Linked DNA regions of Homo sapiens. The protein of the gene in region 1 interacts with the protein of each later gene in a pairwise test. Each region holds a gene or a part of one and is shown in the gene's direction. Other genes may lie near its edges. The genes, in order: TMED8, ZDHHC16, STX8 and LAPTM4A.

The links.
Region 2: the proteins of TMED8 (region 1) and ZDHHC16 interact in binary tests that used the Homo sapiens proteins (3 or more experiments, as listed by UniProt).
Region 3: the proteins of TMED8 (region 1) and STX8 interact in binary tests that used the Homo sapiens proteins (3 or more experiments, as listed by UniProt).
Region 4: the proteins of TMED8 (region 1) and LAPTM4A interact in binary tests that used the Homo sapiens proteins (3 or more experiments, as listed by UniProt).

Annotation. Positions count from the first base shown.
Region 1 is NC_000014.9:77,345,994-77,349,801, reverse strand, and holds part of TMED8 (protein TMED8), read left to right. Parts: intron 1-3,321; exon of another isoform or gene 3,322-3,323; coding exon 3,324-3,453; intron 3,454-3,808.
Region 2 is NC_000010.11:97,452,416-97,456,223, forward strand, and holds part of ZDHHC16 (palmitoyltransferase ZDHHC16), read left to right. Parts: coding exon 1-88; intron 89-479; coding exon 480-508; intron 509-1,114; coding exon 1,115-1,248; intron 1,249-1,383; coding exon 1,384-1,431; intron 1,432-2,298; coding exon 2,299-2,384; intron 2,385-3,186; coding exon of another isoform or gene 3,187-3,244; coding exon 3,245-3,368; intron 3,369-3,558; coding exon 3,559-3,629; intron 3,630-3,808. UniProt on the Homo sapiens protein: Palmitoyl acyltransferase that mediates palmitoylation of proteins such as PLN and ZDHHC6.
Region 3 is NC_000017.11:9,502,755-9,506,562, reverse strand, and holds part of STX8 (syntaxin-8), read left to right. Parts: intron 1-1,400; coding exon 1,401-1,525; intron 1,526-3,808. UniProt on the Homo sapiens protein: Vesicle trafficking protein that functions in the early secretory pathway, possibly by mediating retrograde transport from cis-Golgi membranes to the ER.
Region 4 is NC_000002.12:20,041,536-20,045,343, reverse strand, and holds part of LAPTM4A (lysosomal-associated transmembrane protein 4A), read left to right. Parts: intron 1-3,808. UniProt on the Homo sapiens protein: May function in the transport of nucleosides and/or nucleoside derivatives between the cytosol and the lumen of an intracellular membrane-bound compartment.

The DNA of each region.
Region 1 (3,808 bases):
AATCTAAAAGCCAGTGTGCATCTTGCAATCAACAAAATATGCTCCATATCATGTCAGGCAGTAATAGGTGCAGTGAAGAAAAATGAAGCTGGGTAAGGGCAGAAACAGTGACAAGGCCAGGAAGGGGCACACATTTTATATACAGACCTCTGAGAAACCTCTCAGCAGAAAACCTGCAGGAAGGAAGTCTTCAGTTAACTAAAGAAGAGTTAATGTCCTAGAAGAGTATTCTAGGCAGAGATTACAGCAAATGCAAAAGCTCTCAAGTGGGAGAGTACTTGGGGTGTTTGAGGACTATCAAGGATTGAAGAGGCTGTTGTGGCTGGAGGGACCAGGGCAGAGTGAGGATTCTGAGAGGTGAGGTCAGAGTGCAAAGGGCCTTAGGGCTGGGCGAGGTGGCTCACGCCTGTAATCCCAGCACTTTGGGAGGCAGAGGCGGGTGGATCATCTGAGGTCAGAAGTTTGAGACCACCCTGGCCAACATGGTGAAACCCCGTCTCTATTAAAAATACAAAAAATTAGCCAGGCATGGTGGTGCACACCTGTAGTCCCAGCTACTCAGGAGGCTGAGGCAAGAGAATTGCTTGAACCAGGGAGGCAGAGTTGCAGTGAGCCGAGATCCGAGATCATGCCACTACACCCCAGCTTGGGCGACAGAGCAAGACTCTGTCTCCAAAAAAAAAAAAAAAAAAAAAGGGCCTTAGAGTTCCAGGTGGCAGGCTTGGTTCCCAGTGCTGTGCATACAGAGGCAGTGAGACCCAGTGCCTGCCACCAAGCTTACTTTCTAGTAGAGGAGGCAGATGATACACAGTGTCAAGAAACAGAAATGGACTATAATTTCTGGGTTGAAGAGCATTAAAATAGACCCACAGCCTAGGCCAGTTTACAGCTTACACTGAATTACCCAAGTGAACCTATAAAGATCAACAGAATCCCACAGCTCTGATTCTTGGAGTGACCTCCTCTTGTCTGTCCTGAGGTAGGTTGGAGTAATTTTGGATATTCCAAAAGATGGCTCTGTTTTATCTGAAGGAGTGATTCTTCTTGTTTATGTTAAAAAAGAAAAGAAACAAACTAATAAACTCTAAAATGAAGCCTCCGTTTCCCCCATGAGGTGTATACTACCATTTTCCAGTCATTTACTCAACCTCTTTGAGGAAATGATGCCCTCAAGCAGGGATTCTCAGACCTTTATACTCTTAAAAATTATTAAGGACCCAAAGAATTTTTGTTTGTGTGGGTTATATCTATCAATATTTACTATATTAGAAATTAAAACAGCCGGGCGCGGTGGCTCATGCCTGTAATCCCAGCACTTTGGGAGGCCAAGGTGGGTGGATCACGAGGTCAGGAGATCGAGACCATCCTGGCTAACATGGTGAAACCACGTCTCTACTAAAAATACAAAAAAATTAGCTGGGTGTGGTGGCCGGCGCCTGTAGTCCCAGCTACTCGGGAGGGTGAGGCAGGAGAACGGAGTGAACCCGGGAGGCGGAGCTTGAGTGAGCTGAGATCGCGCCACTGCACTCCAGCCTGGGCGACAGAGTGAGACTCCGTCTCAAAAAAAAAAAGAAATTAAAACTGAAAAATTAGAATATGGTTATTTGTTCATTTAAAAATAATAACTCATGACATGCTATATATAAAACATGTTTTTACTTAAAAACAACTAATTTTCAAAGCAAAGAATGTAGTACAAAGAGAGACATAAATCTCTTTAATGTTTGGCTTAATAAAAGGCAGTTGGATTCTCAGCTCTGCTTCTGAGTTCATTCTATTGCGGTATCACATGTCATATAGTCTCTGGAAAATTCCACTGCACACTCTTGAGAAAATGAGAATGAAAAAAGGGAAATAACATTTTAGTGTTATTATGAAACAGTTTGAACTTCATAGACTCCCCCGAAGGGCCCCTAGACCATACTTGGATAACTGCCATTCAAAAAAATCCATGTCACCTTTTATCAGCAACAGATTCCCAAAAGGCCTGGGTTATTTTGCTACAACCGTGGCACTAATTTTCTAGTTTTTGTGAGGCCAGGGGAAATGGAAGAGAGCATAAATCATTCCCTTGCATCTTTATAATCAACTATTCATGGCTGAGCACGGTGGCTCACGCCTGTAATCCTAGTACTTTGGGAGGCCGAGGCAGGCAGATCACCTGAGGTCGGGAGTTCAAGACCAGCCTGACCAACAACATGGAGAAACACTGTCTCTACTAAAAATACAAAATTAGCCGGGTGTCGTGGCACATGCCTGTGATCCCAGCTACTCGGGAGGCTGAGGCAGGAGAATTGCTTGAGGTTGTGGTGAGATGCATCACTGGTGCACTCTGCCAAAAAACAAACAACTATTCACATAGCTGTGTTTGAAGCCATTGGGATTGTTGATTAATGTGCTTTAAAAAGGAGAGAAAGTGATGACCCCTAGCACTGAACGGGGACAGGGTATGAAACGGATCTGCTGAAAGACTGCCTCAGGGATAACTGCAGAGAGGGTTGCCTTGATCATCATTTTGTACTTTGTTTTGGTGCCCAGTCTCCCTTAGGCAGACCTCCTCCTTTTGCTTCTAGCCAGTGGCTTTGTGTGTAGAACTGAACTGAGATTCTACCAATTCCTCGGTTAAAATTCTGTGGGCCCTGTGGGCCGCAGAGTGAGGAATAACATTGGAACTCACAGAAGCCGAGGGCAGGATGGTGGTTAATAGGTGTTGGGGCCAGGGGGTGGGATGGGGAGATGTTGGTCAAGTGGTATAAGGTGTTAGAAGGAGGAACAAGTTCTGGAGATCTTTGTACAACATGGTGACAATAGTTAATAACAATGTATACTTGAAAATTGCTAAGACAGTAGATTTTAAATGTTCTCACCACAAAAAGGAGTATGTGAGGGGATGGATATGTTAATTAGCTCAATTTAATCATTTTACAATGTGTACATATATCAAAACAGCACATTGTACACCATAAATATATACACTTTGTCAACTAAAATAAATAAATAAAAGAAACAACAATGACAAAAAAAAAAAAAAAAAAAAAAAACCAGACCAGCAGTCCATCTCAGATGATGGAGCTGTGTGTTTTCCATGGTTCTCCTAGCCTTTGACCTGGCCTTGTTAGTCTTTGTTTTCACACTGTCAACACTTTACTGTGGACCAATTCAGCCCTGGGCAGTGGTCGGCTAAGGTGACAGTAGAGCTAAATAAATGCCAGGGGCAGGTGGGGCAGGGGGTATCTCGAATGTTGTTTTATTTCAAAGTTTCTCCAGGATGATTGAGTCTTTTCAAAGAGTCCTTGAATTAACATGCTCTCTTCCTCTGAGAGGCCACAGATGGTATCTCCAGTGAGTAAGGATGCCACGGAAGATCTGCGGAAAGCAACTGGTCCTTTGGAGGCTCAGGCCTTGGTGAAACAGGATTTGCTGCCTGCAGACCAGGCCCAGGTCCTCAATGAGGTAGGGGGCAGATTCTGGCTCTTTCTTATGAAAGGAGGCACCAGAATGTGGACACATAGTGGTTGGGTTGGAATTAGAAAGCACTGCGAGGGTGGCTCCCGGAATTCTCTCTTTGCCCTCTAATTTAGGGCATCTTGGTCTTCATTATTTTTTGGAGAATGATTATTTGTATCTTCCACAGGGCCCATCATTGTACTGGCACCCAGTAGGCACCGATTCAGAAAACGAAGTGTTAGAGTGAATGTTCATGTGTTCTCTAAAATCCTCTTCATTGAGGAGCCTGAAGTCATTGGACTATTTTGCTCTTACTTTTCTTGTGGTAGATCTATTTAGTATTTATGATAAAGATTCCACA
Region 2 (3,808 bases), on another chromosome or scaffold:
GCAGGAATGATATCGCCACCGTCTCCATCTGTAAGAAGTGCATTTACCCCAAGCCAGCCCGAACACACCACTGCAGCATCTGCAACAGGTGGGTCTTGGCTTTGCTCTCTGGGAATCCCAGCTGTGGTCCTTCTGTAGCCCTAGGGCAAAACCTAACCTTGAGTTTGCTAAGACATGGGTGAATCACCCATCGTGTCCCAGGTGATGTGCCCTCTTCTCCTGACACCTCATCCTTAGGATGGTCCTGTGAGTTAGGCATTATTACCACTTGTGAAAACCGAGGTTTGGAGAGATGAGTTACCTTGTCCAATATCTTATAGCCATTAAACTGCAGAGCTGGGTTTGAAGCAAGGCCTGGCTGTCTTCAAAGTCTGTGCCCTTTCCACCTCAGCAGGATGCTGGTCCTTGTAGGGAAGGATTGGCACTGACATCTCAAGAACTTTGGCCACCGTAACAGAGCCTGTGTCCCTTCCTCACAGGTGTGTGCTGAAGATGGATCACCACTGCCGTATCCTTTTGCTTTCTCTTCTGCCTGAGGCCTTCTTTAGCTCCAGAGCACTGTACAGGGTTAATGGCCACCATTTTAGCATCACCGTGCAGAGAACACTGGAGTTGAGGAGTTGTGGGGCCTGACCATCTCCTGGGAGAGCAGGAAGCTCACACTCTAGGACGGATCTTCTTGGAGCAGGGAATCTTTTAACACCTCTTTCTTTTCTAGACTCTCATGCTAACAGCTATTGGATGGAAAGAGATGTTTGGGCTTCTGTGGTTGTTTACTGTGTACGCCAGATAGAACCGTGGGTCTCCAGCTGCTGTTCCACACAGATGTTTGGCTAACTCCAGCTAGGCTGAAATATTGGCAGATTCATTTTACTGAAGGATTTCAGTTTCCGTGACTTCTTGGTGGGACCTGAATGCTCTGAAAAGCTTTGAGCATTTTCACCTCAACCTTGGGTGTGAACAGTCTTGTATTTTCTTGCCTTTGGAAAGTAGTTCTTAGTGACTGGAAGCCTGAGGCTTGGGTGATATTGTCAGGAACCAGGGATGAACCTGAGGGGCCTGGACACCGCCTGAAATTGTGTTTGATTCTAGTCCTTAATCATTTCCCAACCAGCCTGGCTAAACAATTGTGTGGGCCACTATAACCATCGGTACTTCTTCTCTTTCTGCTTTTTCATGACTCTGGGCTGTGTCTACTGCAGCTATGGAAGTTGGGACCTTTTCCGGGAGGCTTATGCTGCCATTGAGGTGAGCTCATCAGGAACAGGGCAGCTCAGTAGTGCAGAACTTCGGGATGTAGAACCTGTCCCTAAGGAATGGGGCTGGTAGCACCCCATCCTAGAGGCCTGAGAGTATAACCAGCACTGTTTTCCGTCCCCTTAGAAAATGAAACAGCTCGACAAGAACAAACTACAGGCGGTTGCCAACCAGGTGGGCTGTCCCCACCCCACTGCCTCCTGCTGCTCAGGCCTGGGGGTATAGAGTTGCTAAGGCATCTGGGGCCGACCTGCCCATGTAGTTGTAGAGGCTGCCGAGAGGCCACTCTAGACCAGATCAGGAGTGTTCAGGCAGGCTGGCTGTGGTGGGTAGACTAAGTGGCCTACAGGCAAGCTGGAAGTCCCTGGTATGTGACAGTTTTGGCTATCTATCCCGTCATCACCTCTCTTTGGGTCGAGCAAGCAATCTGCCTTGGTGATGGCCTGAGCAGCAAGGAGTCTATGTTAGTCTGTGTAATGGGGTTCCAGGGGACAGAGATCAGGCAGAGCCAGTCTGATCATCCCTTGCTCCTGGTCCATCTGCATCTGGATCATCCCTGCCCCCCCAGTACCTTTTAGGACTCCCTAATCTGCTGAGCCCATCTTGATTGTATTTCTGCTGCCCTTTCACAGTCCCTAGTGGAGCTCACAGTCCCTAGTGGTTTTCCCCACTCCAGTCAGTCCATTCTGGGTATGGTCTGGTCTCCTCTCTTGGGGATGCAGCTGTGCAGTGAAGGAGTTCTGGCTGGGGATTGGAGTGGCTTCCCCTGGAGCCCCATTTGTGTTGTCACTCTACAGGCCCAGGGTCAGCTTCTCCTGTGCTTCACCATCCTGTCCAGACCCTGCTCTGCTGCCCAGTGTTTGTCCATGTGGTGATGCCGCTGGGCTTGGTCCACCCATCTTGGCTGCTACCCTAACTCCTCTGTGGCTTTACCCTGTTTTCTCTGCCTGGATTTGGATCATTTCCTGCCTATAGGTGCTGGGGGCAGTTGCTGGAGACCCACAGAGCAAATGAGCCAGCTTTGCTGTTTTCTTTTTCTAGACTTATCACCAGACCCCACCACCCACCTTCTCCTTTCGAGAAAGGATGACTCACAAGAGTCTTGTCTACCTCTGGTTCCTGTGCAGGTATTTGTTTTTGATAGTTTTAAGGGAGGGGAAGCTTCAGAAAAAAAGTTTTTTAGGTGCCCACACGCAGGCAGAAACCCATTCCTAAGTGAACTGCCACTGCTCTAGTCTAACTTAGGTTGGCAGAGAGCCAGCACTTTCTTCAGCATTCAGGGCAGGGAGCACTGAGGATATTGGCATTGCTTATTACTAAGCACACAGATACAAGTATGTGCTTGATATGTAACCAAAGTAAGTTAAACTCCTTATTTAATCTTAGCACCTGTCTAAAGGCTGGGTGACTGTATTTATAGATGAGGAAAACTGAAAATTGGGGGCCAAGGGGCAGTGAAGTGAAGTGACTTGTTCTATGATACACAGCTAGTAGGAATATTAGCACTGGAATTTGAATTTCATGCCATCCCATTCCAACCCTGGGTGTTTACTACTTCCCACTATCTCCCAAGCATGGGTATTTTAGGAAATATAGAACATTTTCTCAGCAATACAGACTTATTTCTCTATTCTCCTTTCCACATACTCTCTTTTCCCTTAACAACAACAGAGATGGAGTCTTGCTATGTTGCCCAGGCTAGACTCAAATGATCTTCCTATCTCAGTCTCCTGAGTTGCTGGGACTACTAGGCATGAGCTACCATGCCTGGCTTCACATCATTTATTCTTAGGCCACTTTGATGCTTTTTCATTGATGCTCTTTATAGACATAGTGAAGTAAAAGTTTATCTAGGATATATGGTGGGAGGTGAGGAAGACTTAGGTAGAGAGGTTCCAAACCAGTTGTTACTGCTTAGCTCAATTTCAGACATACTTCCTCCAGCCCTCTCTAAACTACCCACCAGTCTTCGCCCCTCTTTTCTTAGTTCTGTGGCACTTGCCCTGGGTGCCCTAACTGTATGGCATGCTGTTCTCATCAGTCGAGGTGAGACTAGCATCGAAAGGCACATCAACAAGAAGGAGAGACGTCGGCTACAGGCCAAGGGCAGAGTGAGTAGGGTTGAAGGCTCGGGGTGGGTAGGTGGGTAACTGAACTTGCTCTCCTGTAAACAGAGGCCATGGGCAGGGCTGACTAGGGCAAGCATTGTAAAAGGCCAGAACTACTCTATCTGAGCTTTAGCTTAGCCAATTTAGTCTGAAAAATTAGAAGTTCAAAGAAACATGTTTTTCTTGGCTCCAGGTATTTAGGAATCCTTACAACTACGGCTGCTTGGACAACTGGAAGGTATTCCTGGGTGTGGATACAGGAAGGTAATGTAAGACACACAGACTAATGCTGTCCAACAGAACACTGTGATGAGAAAGATGTTCTATGCCTGTGAGCACTTGGAATATGGCTAGTGGCTACTGTGTTAGCACAGTTCTAGACTCTAGGAATAGAGATCATTGTCCATTTGAACCAGAAAGGCTTGAGGCCAATACTGTGTGGT
Region 3 (3,808 bases), on another chromosome or scaffold:
GGGGCCTTCATGCTGCCCTCCTAGACTTTCAGTCACCACAGGGGCCTCTCCACTTCCCCACTGCAGTTCAGCACTTTCCCACACTGAAGTCAAATCTTAGCTGTTTATTCATTGCCTTAGTCCTTTCCTAAGAAAGGTGGGTGGGGGGGGGGGGGAGCGGGTGAGCACCAGCTGACTCTAATCAGTCATCTTGCTGATGTCCCACCCATCATTTATTCTATGATTTTTCATGAATCTGTTGAGAGCTCTAAAGATGAGTCTAATGTTCATCTCTTTGTTGAATTGGTCAGAAGGTCGTGTCCTGGACAAGATGATCTTCTCAGCTTGGACAGAATGCAGACAGGTGGGGAGAGGAGAGGAGCTACTTGAGAGGAGAAAAATCCTGAAAACATGGGGACTGAGGTGGAAATCATGTGTTTCCTGTTCCTTAGACAGCGAGACCAACTGGTCTCGTGCAGAAAGGGCACATGGATTATTAGAGGGAGTAAGGTTAAGATTGACAAATCAGAATGTGTTTATTCTGTTATGAATGCTACATTATAGTCACAAAATTGGTATTGAAACCCTGCATGTGTTTCTGTCTCTGAGCAACCAAATACTCCTTTTTTTTTTTTTTTTTTTGAGACAGAGTCTTGCTCCGCTACCCAGGCTGCAGTGCAGTGGCGCCATCTTGGCTCACTGCAACCTCCGCCTCTCAGGTTCAAGCGATTTTCCTGCCTCAGCCTCCCAAGTAGCTGGGATTACAGATGTCTGCCGCCAAGCCCGGCTAATTTTTTTTGTGTTTATTAGAGACAGGGTTTCATCATGTTGGACGGGCTGGTCTGGAACTCCTGACTTCAGGTGATCTGCCCGCCTCAGCCTCCCAGAGGGCTGGGATTACACACATGAGCCACTGCGCCCGGCTCCAAATACCCTTTAATGGGAAATTATATGGTCTTTTTTTAAAACAACAACAACATTGTAATCTGTAGTCGCAACATTGTGTCTGCTTGAGAAATAATATTTGTACCTTTGGGGTCACGTAGCCTCTGAGACAAACTTTGTCCTAATAAAAAGGCCGCTGTTCGGCCTTCTGTTTTTGAAATTTAAGAACCTCATTTATTACCAACTTCTTTTAGGATTATTAACTCAAACATCTCTTGGAGGATTAGTACAAATATTATGTTCTCCCATCATCTCTATAACAGGCTGTAATTCTGAGGACCAAGCTTGTGCCTTATTCATCCTTGTATCTCGTCCAGCACTGAATACAGTTCCTGGCATAAACTAATGATGCAATAAATTGTGTTTGAATTGAATTTTCAAAGCATTCAAGGCTGGCCACCTCTGCACTTGTGGGAGTAATTTGCATTTGAGCTGCATGTTTTGAGATATATCATGCATTTAATATTGTTCTTTAGGTCCAGCCTGATGAGTGAAGAGGCTAAGCGAGGAGCACCCAACCCTTGGCTCTTTGAGGAGCCAGAGGAGACCAGAGGCTTGGGTTTTGATGAAATCCGGCAACAGCAGCAGAAAATTATCCAAGGTACTAAATATCCTGAGGAGTGTGGGCTCAGAAACCTTGCCAGAATTTTTTTTTTTTTTTTTTTGAGACGGAGTCTTGCTATGTCGCCTAGGCTGGAGTGCAGTGGCGTGATCTTGGCTCACTGCAACCTCCACCTCCCGGGTTCAAACGATTCTCCTGCCTCAGCCTCCCGAGAAGCTGGGACTACAGGTGCGTGCCACCATGCCCGGCTAATTTTTTGTATTTTTAGTACAGACAGGGTTTCACCCTGTTAGCCAGGATGGTCTTGATCTCCTGACCTCATGATCTTCCCACCTTGGCCTCCCAAAGTGCTGGGATTACAGGTGTGAGCCACCGTGCCCGGCCACCAGATTTTCTACTGGAGCCTTGTTTGTTCCTCATCCCCATTGAAAATTGGAGTGAAAACTGCTGGTCTTTTAAAGCTTTTGGTGTGTGCCTCAGGATACCTGAGGAATAGACAGTTGCTGTCACTCATCTCGGTGGCTCATGGAAGTGGTGATTTTCCATTGGGCAAGAGCAGAGAGAGCAGATCTGAATCTAAGTCCAAGCAAATTTGATGCTTATGCTCTTTACTTTAGCTTCACGACTGGGAATTAGTCTCCAAACACAAGACTCCATTTTATTTTTTAAATTATAAAATATGTCAGTTTGGCTTTTCTTTTTTATCTTTTGCCCTGTGGCTTTTTAACTTTTTTTTTTTAAACTTTCTTATATTTTTAAAATTTCAGAAGTATGCATGATTGTTATACAAAGTGTAAACAACATAGGAATGTATAAGATGAAAGCCCTCCATATTGTTTCTCCAATCTCAAACTGGAAACAGATTAATATGTATTTCCTTAGACCTTTTGTATACATTCACATACATATATTCAATATAAATATACTTATTTTACATAAATGGAATCATGAGATATTTAGCTCTCTCCATATATATATATAATTCCACACCTTTTTAAAACTTAGTATGTGTCGGCTGGGTGTGGTGGCTCACGCCTGTAATCCCAGCACTTTGGGAGGCTGAGGCAGGAGGATCACCTGAGATCAGGAGTTCGAGACCAGCCTGGCCAACATGGTGAAACGCCGTCTCTACTAAAAATAAAAAATTAGCTGGGTGTGGTGGCACGCACCTGTAGTCCTAGCTACTCAGGAGGCTGAGGCAGGAGAATCGCTTGAACCCAGGAGGCAGAGGTTGCAGTGAGCCGATATAGCATGTCACTGCACTCCAGCCTGTGCAACAGAGTGAGACTCCATCTCAAAGGAAAAAAAAGAAAAAACCACTTAGTATGTGTTATGGACTTTTTAAAATGTCAGTATGTACAGATACATTATTCTTTCTAATTCTGCTTTTTAAAATCAGCTTTATTGCCAGGCCTGGTGGCACATGCCTGTACTCCTGACACTTTGGGAGGCCAAGGCAGCAGGATGGCTTGAGTGTAGGAGTTTGACACCAGCCTAGGCAACATAGTAAAATCCCATCTTTAAAAAAATTAATGAATAAAAAGGAAGAGGGAGGAGGAGGAGGAGAAAATAAATCTAAAGTCAGCTTTATTGAGATGTAGTTGATATGATCATAAATGGCCCATGTTTGAAGTATATGATTTGATAAGCTTTGACATATGTATATGCCTGTGAAACCATCACTGCAATAAAAATAATGAACCTAATTGTTATTCCCAAAAGTTTTCTTCATGCCTCTTTGTAATTCTTCCTATTGTTCCTCCCTGCCATGCCCAGACAACTGCTGAACTTCTTTCTGTCACTATAAATTAGTTTCCATTTTCTATAATTTTATATAAATAGAACTATACAGTATGTACCTTTTGGGGAAGAAGGGGCTCTGGCTTCTTTGTCTAAGCATAATTATTTTAAGATTCATTGAACTGGTTATGTGTATCAGTATTTCACTCTTTTTTTTTTTTTTTTTTTTTTGAGACAGAGTCTGGCTTTGCTGCCTAGACTGGAGTGCAGTGGTACGATCTCAGCTCACCACAACCTCCACCTCCTGGGTTCAAGCAATTCTCCTGCCTCAGCTTCCCGAGTGGCTGGGATTACGGGCGCCCGCCATCATGCCCAGCTAATTTTTTTTGTATTTTTAGTAGAGATGGGGTTTCACCATGCTGGCCAGGCTGGTCTCGAACTCCTGACCTCAAGCGATCCACTCGACTCGGCCTCCCAAAGTGCTGGGATTACAGGCATGAGCCACCGCGCCCGGCCTGCATTTCACTCTTATATTATAGATTTGTATTCCATTGTATGGATTTACCACAATCTGTGTATCCA
Region 4 (3,808 bases), on another chromosome or scaffold:
CAGGCACACACCACTGTCCCCAGCTTAATCATTCTTTTTAAATTACATTTTTATTAACTTTCTTTCCTGAATACAGTGAAAGGAAAAAGTGAATCAGGAATAAATATTTGTAATAGTTAGTACATAGTTGGATATTTTCAGAGAAATTTTGTATTGTAAGATTACAGTTAATTTTATGTATTTTTTGAAAAGCTAAACATGTAATTTAGAAATATCAACTTTAATCAGAGATAAGTTGCCAGGGCTTACATGTGAGCACAAGGTAGGCGTTCGTTGGTGAATATCTTTAAGATCAAAGGATGCCAGGAGCGGTGGCTCGTGCCTGTCATCCTAGCACTTTAGGAGGCCAATGCAGTAGGATCACTTGAGGCCAGGAGTTCAAGACCAGACTGGACAACATAGTGAGACTCCATCTCTACAAAAAAAATTTTTTTAAGTCACAAGGATGGGTTTTCCAGTGTAATACTTTAAGATGTAAGTTGGGGTTCTAATGAAATGATGTGATCTAATGGAATATAATTAACTCAAAGAAGATTTGGAAAAAGCTTTTAATGAAGTAGCATTGAAATTTATTTCACTGTTTCTTGGTCCTTCTGATTGGCCCTACGATTTATTTTGTTTAATATTTAGTGGTATGACCCACAGTGAAATTAAACTTGAAGTGTCTCTAGTACTAAAAGAAGATAATAGTGGATGAGCGTGTGACTTATCCATGGAAGAGAAGAAAAGTGAAGAGTTCTTTTGTTTTTTAAGAGACAGACTTAGTATTGTTGCCTAGGCTGGTCTCCAGAGCTCAGGCGATCCTTCCCACCTCAGCCTCCCAAGTAGCTGGGACTATAGGTGTGAGATTTTTAGAAATCCTTCATGTAATAAAAATATTTAAGAAGGGAAAATAGAACTCCTAAATGTTTTTGGCATGTCATTCCCTTCATTTAGTAATTGGGTTTGCATGCTTTTCTTGACAAAGGAATTTCTGTACCGCAGAGAGCTTTTTCACTGTGACTATGCTGTGTTTAGCAAAGAAGAGTTTGCCTAATTGATTTCAAACTGATTTCCATACACAGAACATATAACGTTTTAGTAGATATATCTGATAGTTCAGTAATTAATTCACCTAGTTGTATTAGCTCATACTCATACACCACACACGCTGGCCAAAACCCATTGCAGCAAATGTGGGCAACAAAAAAAATCAGCTTTCAACTGGGGAGAGCCACCTTGCAAAAGTGATTGTTCCTGGTAAGTCCTCTCAAGAATTGAAAGATATCATGCCTTGCCTCTGAACAATGCAAGGAAAGAGGCTTGCTGCTGAACATAGACAGTAAAGTCTAAACATTTTATAGCCTTAGATAATGGTTTCTTTGGGAAAGACCTTAAAATAGGAGTTACTGGGGAATGTTTATTAATAATCACGTAGTGCTGAGAAGGAGGATGTCTTAAAAACCAGACTTGTGTCCTGATTCTCCCATCTGTCAGCTCAGCAAGCTTAACACAAGTTATATAGCTTTACTGAATCTTAAGTTTCCCCATCTACACATAGGCTTTGGTAATACTTACTTCACGGGTTGTTGTGAGGAATAAGTGAAGTAATACACGTAAATACACATGTCATAAAGCATATCCTCAATAAATATTGGTTGATTCCAAATTTCATATTGTGGCATTGTTTAGATCACCTACCCTAAAATAAAACTTGATCTGCTTATCTAGCGGATGTTAGTGAAATGACTTCAGCTGATAAAAGGAAAATGCATTTCCTGTGTGTTTATCATTCAAGGTGAAACAGGAGAGAAGTATATAATAGTTTGTTTAAAATACTATCGATAGCTGGCCGACACAGTGGCTCACACCTGTAATCCCAGCACTTTGGGAGGCCAAGGCTGGTGGATCACTTGAGGTCAGGAGTTTGAGACCAGCCTGGCCAACGTGGCGAAACCCCACCTCTACTAAAAATACAAAAATTAGCCAGGCTTGAATGGTGCACGCCTGTAGTCCCAGCTACTCGGGAGGCTGAGGTGTGAGAATGGCCTGAACCCAAGAGGTGGAAGCTGCAGTAAGCCGAGATCGTGCCACTGCACTCCAGCCTGGGTGACAGAGCGAGGCTTGGTCTCAAAAAAAAAAAAAAAAAAAAAGGTCCCAGCTACTTGGGAGGCTGAGGTGTGAGAATTGCTTGAACCCAAGAGGTGGAAGCTGCAGTGAGCTGAGATTGCGCCACTGCACTCCAGCTTGGGTGACAGAGCAAGGCTTGGTCTCAAAAAAAAAAAAAGTCCCAGCTACCCCGGGGACTGAGGCAGGAGAATCGCTTGAACCCAGGAGGTGGAGGCTGCAGTGAGCCGAGATTGCGCTACTGCACTCCAGCCTGGGCGACAGAGCGAGACTCCATCTCAAAAACTAAATAAATTAAAATACTACTGATAGGAACTTAACCCTTGAAAATTCCAGATGTTCACATTTTCACAAAGGGAAGGAGGGCAAATTCTGTGAACTTTACTATGCTAGATAAGGAAGCCTAACTCCAATCCTACGTGAGATTTCTGTCTTGAGTCGTTAACAATACTCTTTCTGAGTACTTAAATGCAGTGAAGCCTCCTGGGATACCACAGGGATTGGCCAACAACTACAGGCACAACTCATTTCCTTTTAAAATGGATTTACAACCCTGGGAGACTAGGAAAATTCAGATATTATAATGGGATTTCAGCAGGCTGTTCCTCTAAAGAGCTAAACAATTTTATTCAGAAGTTGCTAGTTAATGGGAAGGGGCAGCCTCTGGCAGCTTTGTCCTCACCTCTGTTCTCTTTTGTTAGTAACTTAGATGGAAATACTGATTACATGCTGATCCTAAATTCAGGAAGTTGAGACAGTAAATCTGTAGTGTGTCAGAATCCACATCCAGAAAATCTTCATAGGCAAGAATGTAATAAGATGAAACTCAATTACAGGTATATTAAGGCCTATGCTTGGGCCTCTGAATCCAACTGTACAGGTGGGAGCTTAGCACAATCAAGTGTGAAAAAGAACTTGGTGTTTTAGGGAGTTACTCTCATGTGATATTCAGAAAATTTGTAAAGCCAATGCAGGCTGGGTGCGGTGGCTCATGCCTGTAATCACAGCATGTTGGGAGGCTAAAGCAGGAGGATCACTTGAGGCCAAGAGTTCAAGACCAGCCTAGGCAATATGGTGAGACCTTGTTTCTAACAAAAACAAAAAACCTCAGTACAACTTCAGGTTGCATTAATTGAAATTCGTTAGCCAGAATATGAGAACTGAGATCCCATTATGTTCTGACCAGGGTGACTTTACCTCATTTTAATATATGTCCATCAAACTGGAGCATGTGTAAAGAGGAAGACAAAAGGGAAATAGGTAGCTAGGAAACATGCTAGTCAGAGGAATGGCTTAAAGATCTGCATGTCTATTCTAGAGAACACAGTATTTGGAGGCTGTTTTCAGGTATTGGAGCACTTATTTAGAAGGGAGAGCACATTATCTCAAAAGGTAGATTTAAGGCCGGGCGTGGTGGCTCACGCCTGTAATACCAACACTTTGGGAGGCTAGGGCTGGGTGTATCACTTGAGGTCAGGAATTAGAGACCAGCCTGGCCAACATAGTGAAACCCCGTCTCTACTAAAAATACAAAAATCACCCGCGTATGGTCGTGGGCACCTGTAATCCCAGCTACCAGGTGGCTGAGGTGGGAGGATCACATGAGCCTAGGAAGGGGAGGCTTCAGTGAGCTGAGATTGCACCACTGCACTCCACCCTGGGCAATAGAGTGAGACTCCATATCACACACACGCACACATAC